Regions from separate parts of the Homo sapiens genome. Here region 1 is linked to region 2. Evidence: fine-mapped QTL for protein levels in blood plasma. Region 2 holds a variant in brackets. A gene starts in the other region. All regions are shown on their reverse strands.

Region 1 (2,895 bases), not on the chromosome of region 2:
CACACAGTCTGGCTAGATCTCATCCTAAGATCTCAAGTCAGTCTGACGTCTGTCTCCTGGGGCAGAACTTTGGATTGGGGAATGTGGGAGTGGGGAGGAGCCAGGTGAGCAGGGATTTTTCTACCCACATGACAGCCTTCTGGGGACACCTGCTGGTGGTGATCACATAGCTCTTCAGCCTCTGCAAGGAGATCTTCTTACTGCTAAATGTGAAGCAGCAAGTAGATGGGACGTTGAGTGCATCTAGAAATAGTTACAAAGAAAAAGACTTTGAGGATGTGTTAGGCTTTTCTCAGCTTGAATACAGCAGGGAGCATCTGTATGGGATGCAAAGCAAAGAGGAAGAAATAGATCTTACTCACCCCCAAGCCCAGCACTCCCACCCTAGACCCTGAGGTGAGGTGGGACCTGTGACATGTGCCTCAGGATCTCAAAGGCTCAGCTGCATGGTGGAGACATGTCACAGCCATCTAGGGGAGGCCACGGGCAAGGCCAGTGGGAAAGGTCCTGGGTGTGGTCCCAGATCTGCAGAGTTTGGGACGATCAGATGAGGTCAAAGAAAAGGCCCTAAATCTGGAGTCAGAAGCTTAGGTTTCATTCTTGCTCTGCAATAACCTGGAGGTGGATGGCTAGGGTCCCTTCTGCCTCCAACATGGGCTTCAGCTTTCTATCTTTAAAATTAGATGTTAAAGTGAACCTCTGAGGAGCCTTACTATTCTGGTGGGCTTAGAAGTGGGGCACTTGGCTGGGCCTGGTGGCTCACGCCTGTAATCCCAGCACTTTGGGAGGCCGAGACGGGAGGATCACTTGAGGTCAAGAGTTTGAGACCAGCCTGGCCAACATAGTGAAACCCCTTCTCTACTAAAAATACAAAAATTAGCTGCACGTGATGGCGGGTGCCTGTAATCACAGCTACTCAGAAGGCTGAGGCAAGAGAATCGCTTGAACCTGGGAGGTGAAGGTTGCAATGAGCCAAGATCGCACCCCTGCACTTCAGCCTGGGCAACATAATGAGACTCAATCTAAAAAAAAAGTGGAGGAGCACTCGGGCTTAGGTCTTCCTTGAATAGAGAAACAGAGGGAAAGAGAGGGAGAGTCGAAGGGAGGTGACTTACCTGGCTGAGCAAGTCCCTGGGGGTTGAAAGCTGCTGTCATGAGCAGCAGGCACAGAAGCACTGCAGAGACTTTCATGTTGAAGGTTAAGAGTTGGAGATTTCACAATGTTTCTTTGCCTCTCTGCTCCTCTGGCTGTTCCGCCGGCCTTTTATAGGGAGTGGAGAAGCTTGGAACTCTCAGAGGACCTTGGCCTGAGCAGGGCGTTGACCAAGTCATGATGAAGGGGGATCCTGAATCTGCTGAGCTGGAGCTGGGCACCAAAGACTTTTCTAGGAAATGCAAGAGGGAAGCTGAGGGCTGAAACAGCATGGCATGGCTTCCTTCTGGCTGTTCAGGCCACAAGGAGCCAGAGAGGAGAAAGGGACACAGACGCGCCCCAGCCATTCACCATGGGAAGCCATAAAGGAGCTGTTTTCTTCTTACTTTCTCCAACAGGAAAGAGAAAAACAATGAAAATTAACTCCTGTAGAGAAAGAGTGCTGTGCTAAGGACTCTGTTCACGTTATATATTTAGTTTGAGGAGGTACATACCATTATTATCATGCCCATTTCATAGAAGAGGAAACGGATGCAGAGAGATTAAATAACTTGACCAAAATCTTATGGGAAATGAGAGGGAAAGCTAGAAGAGAAAGCTGGTCTGCTTATATTTTATCACCAAGGCAGTTTCAACTTTTGTTTAGCAGCAGAAGTCTTTTTCCAAGTCAACTTTTATGTGGAAGTCTAATATCTGAAACAGATTAAGTCAGATTTCTGATGACAGGGGCTCCTTACATTACATATTGTGTCCCCTTCTGCCCCTCAGGCCCAGAGGGACATGGTTCAAACACCTCTGATTGATGCAGGCCCCGTGTTTCCAGGAAGGACCATTGGGTTTCTAGAGCTGTTGATGGGAGGGCTGGGGTGGCCCTCAGAGCAAAGAAGTGAGGTGTTTGGCCCATTCCTGGGCTCCTCCTGCGAGGGGCACATATCTGGGAGCTGGGAGGTGGGGAGGGAATGGCTTAAAATGGTTGAACATGTCCCTTTCCCACTCATCCCTAGCTCCAAGACTTGGCACAGTTTTTGTGCCTTCCTGGAATACTCATCCCTCTGCATTCCACTATAGCAAAATAAGCCCAGTGAAAGTAAAGGGAAGAAATAAAGAGCTAGGATTAGAGAAATAGGAAACAGTAAATATTAGAAAGGATAGATGAAGCCCAAAGCTGGTTCTGTAGCCTATAATTAAGCTAAAACTCTCCTGAACTGAAAATGAAAAAAAAAAGAAAAAAGGGGCTGAGGCGGGGGGATCACTTGAGGTCAAGAGTTCTAGAGCAGCCTGGACAACATGGTAAAACCCTGTCTTTACTAAAAAAAATACAAAAATTACCCAGGCATGGTGGCACATGCCTGTAATCCCAGCTACTTGGGAGGCTGAGGCAGGAGAATTGCTTGAACCTGGGAGGCCGAGGTTACAGTGAGCCAAGATTGCACCACTGCACCCCAGTCTGAGTGACAGAGTAGGACTCTGTCCCAGAAAAAAAAAAAAAGAAAAGAAAAAAGGAAAAAGGTACATATAACCAGTTGCAGAGCCTGCAGACACCAAAAAGAAAATGATAAGAACCTTATGCCAAAAATTTAGTTTAGAGGAAATGGATGAATTTCTTAAAAATCTAACTGACCAGGGTGCACAAATAAATAAAAAATAGAAAGTCATTCTAAAGCTATTAAAGAAATGGAATCAGGAATTGAAAATCTTCCCACAAAACATTCTCTGGGCTCAAAGGGCACAAACAGCTAATT
Region 2 (2,917 bases):
TGCTAATGCTGATTCATAGAAGGAGAAACCTGAGACCATGGATTAGATGCTCAATAAATATTTCATGAGCACCTACTATGTTCCAAGCATGCTGGGGCTTCAGCAGTGAACAAAAGAGACCAGGCCTTGCAGTTGTATGTCTTGAGAGAAGAATCAAAAGGAGTTCTCATGGCTAGGACAAACCATTGAGCAAAGAAAGATGGAACATTTGACACCAGACTCATTTTATTCACACCATGGTTTTACCATATACCTGTTCTAATATATTAGGTAAAATAATTACCCATTCTAGTCTGTTTTCTTATCTGCAAAACGGGGATTATCCCATATTCATTATGCCAATGCAACATTTTTATTGAAAGAATTAGAGGTAATATATAGAGTGCATGATCCGCAAAATGCACACAATGGAGGCGTAATTTTTAATGACTTTTTGATTTTAATTTTATAACATCGGTGCCTCACACCACAGTAGGCACATACTGGGCACTCAATAGATTGGTAAGCATAACTGAACAGCATCATACTTTCCTTAGTGACCTTCATTTAATAAATCAACAGATATGTATTTTGTAGCCATTTTTTCAGGCAAGGACCTCGGTTCGGATTCTTACCATTCCAGAAACAGGTCAAACCGGTGTTGCTGAGACCATTTACGTGGGTCAGACAGTCCTCAAAAGGAATCCATAGCAAGATGTTTGTCACATTGTATAATGTTTTCAATCCTCTGAATACCACTTTGTGAAGGCCTTGGAGCCTAAGAAAATGCTGAGCGAGTTATACAAGATGGACATTTAACCATTAAGTTAAATGGACTAAGTTCTATATAAAATATAGATGCACTTGCTCTAACTGACCTAAATAACAACAGCCTTGAAAGAAGCTGAAAATTTTAAATTTCTAAAAAATATTGCAGGGAATTGTGGTTAAATTCTAAATCCTTATGCATTTCTAAGGATTTTCTATAAATATGAAATAGTAGTGGGAAAAACGACATTTGAACTTACCCAGAATGAAGAATGCCTTTAGTTTTTGGATAGAATCCAGAATTGGAAGAATTTTACATTTTTTCTTCTTATTATTGTAAAGACTGTTAAAATAAACTATGACTAGAGATTAACTAAGGGCCAGAGCAGAAAAGAAGGAAGGAAGAAGGAATTAAATGGTATTTATAAGATTTTGCTTTTCTATATGAGCTGGATGGATTGTTTGTTTAGGGAAGAAGCAGAAAGTAAAAGGAAAATGACAGATTGTATGGGAAATTTTTTCTGTTTGAGTTTGTCATATCGTTGATATTGAACTGCTGATTTCAATTAGGGATTATAAGCGTATGAAAACGTGTATATGCTGGTATTTAGAGCATTTCAAAAATGCCTCAGTGAATCACTAGATCATGTGACAGGATTTGGGTTCTCTAGAATTGCTATTTGATGACTATCTACGTATGTTTTAGTTTAGCCATTATATATGTTTTAGTTTAGCCACTGAGATGCAATCCTTAGATGGGATATGGTAGCTTTCTTGGAATAAAAACCACAGCATATAACTTAGTTAGGACAGGATGAACTCAAACGTGTTTAGATGAGTGGGGGAAAATGATAAATGATGTATTATGATTTTTAAATCCTCATCTGGCCAACTTTGTACTTTATTTCAAACAGCTGTGGACCATTTGGAAGCCATTTTGTAACTCAACTAAATACTAATATTTACTGTATGAATCACATA[C/G]CTTTAAAATATTTGTCTTTCCCTAAGAGTGAGAGACCATTTCTTTCCTAAACTGAACTTTGACATAAATCAGACCCATCCTTGTCAGTTAGAAGGTCTGTGCACTTGCTCATGGCAGTGGTTGTTCATTGCCAAATGCCGTGCTGGGACATCTTTGCTCTCTGCAAGCAGAGGACTTTCTTTATCTATCATTAGAGGCTTTGAAATGTTTTTGAGAGATTTTTTTTTGATAATTTTTAAACATCTTTTTTTAAAGGATTTCCCCTACTTCACCTGCATGTGGAATTTTTATATATCATTATCATTCATTCATAGTTGAGGCCTTTCTTCAGACATTTCCATTAAATATAGAATTCAAGCAACATCCTTGTCCAATTTTAGAAGGTAACATCAGAAAGACATACAGAGTGTACAAAATGGGAGCCATCAGGTAGTTCTCAAAGATTGAGGTGCTAATTACTGTTGAGGAGACTACCTCAGATTTTAATTCTGGTCCAGGCTACTCCCCTTTCAACACAATTACAGGAATCTACCTTCTGAAATGACCCCCCTTTGAATTCTCCCTCTGAACATCTGCAGCTATTCAGGAAAGAGTGTATCCATCAATCCATGTAATGTGACGTGATGAGTTTACTCTTTTCTAAAGTGGTATTTAGGCACTTATGCGATGATCCCACATAGCCAATCATCAATAGCCAATAGGGAGCCATTTGTAGAAAACAGGGGACTCTGCATGCTAGTCAGGTATCCCGTAACAACATCGATTCTGGAGGGAAACCAGGGGCATCTATGCAGCCTGAAACATGTGGAGTTAGCCACCTTTCTTCCCTGGTTGTTAAGCAACAAATTTCAGGAAAGTTAACACTTTGTGTGATGTTAACTGCCAGGAGCTCAACAAAGGGATAGCATCGTAGTCACACTGTTGCTGTTTCAGTAGAAACCAATGAAAGAAAAATGATAGATGCCGTAGTCAGACCATCTGGCAATACTGTCTTATCTGCCACAACTTAGAAAATGCCACTGTGGGCAATGCTATGAACCAAAGTGCATTCTATTTGCCTTTGAAAGCAAAACGCATCCTAGTTAGCTGAATGGGAGTCACTTGGAGTAGCATATTAATAAAAGCATGATAGAAATGCTTAGGGTATACAAAAATGCATTACCATAAAAGACGTATTGACTAAATGTT

Alleles and levels. Positions count from the first base shown, and alleles are read on the strand shown. Strength reflects both the effect of a copy and how common the allele is.
With allele C in place of G in region 2, the plasma level of the protein whose gene starts at base 1,238 in region 1 is lower (weak association).

Evidence for each region. A credible set is the group of variants that fine-mapping cannot tell apart. PIP is the chance, under the fine-mapping model, that this variant and not a neighbour inherited with it causes the effect. The UK Biobank Pharma Proteomics Project read protein levels with antibody pairs (Olink). The fine-mapping took linkage between variants from a reference panel, not from the people measured, so its PIPs are less certain.
Region 1: CCL13 starts here. The variant in region 2 is the best candidate, but not a certain one, in a credible set for the plasma level of the CCL13 protein (UK Biobank, PIP 0.61).

What each region holds. Positions count from the first base shown.
Region 1 is chr17:34,354,823-34,357,717 of GRCh38, reverse strand. It overlaps CCL13 (C-C motif chemokine ligand 13), which reads right to left and starts at 1,238. Exons shown (of 3, transcript NM_005408.3): 1 at 1,116-1,238; 2 at 129-243. The coding sequence starts at 1,191.
Region 2 is chr8:58,828,892-58,831,808 of GRCh38, reverse strand. The region is part of intron 5 of TOX (thymocyte selection associated high mobility group box); the gene reads left to right. Among named protein-coding and RNA genes, the nearest start is that of NSMAF, 170 kb to the right of the region's middle. The variant C/G (reference allele first, on the strand shown) is at 1,729.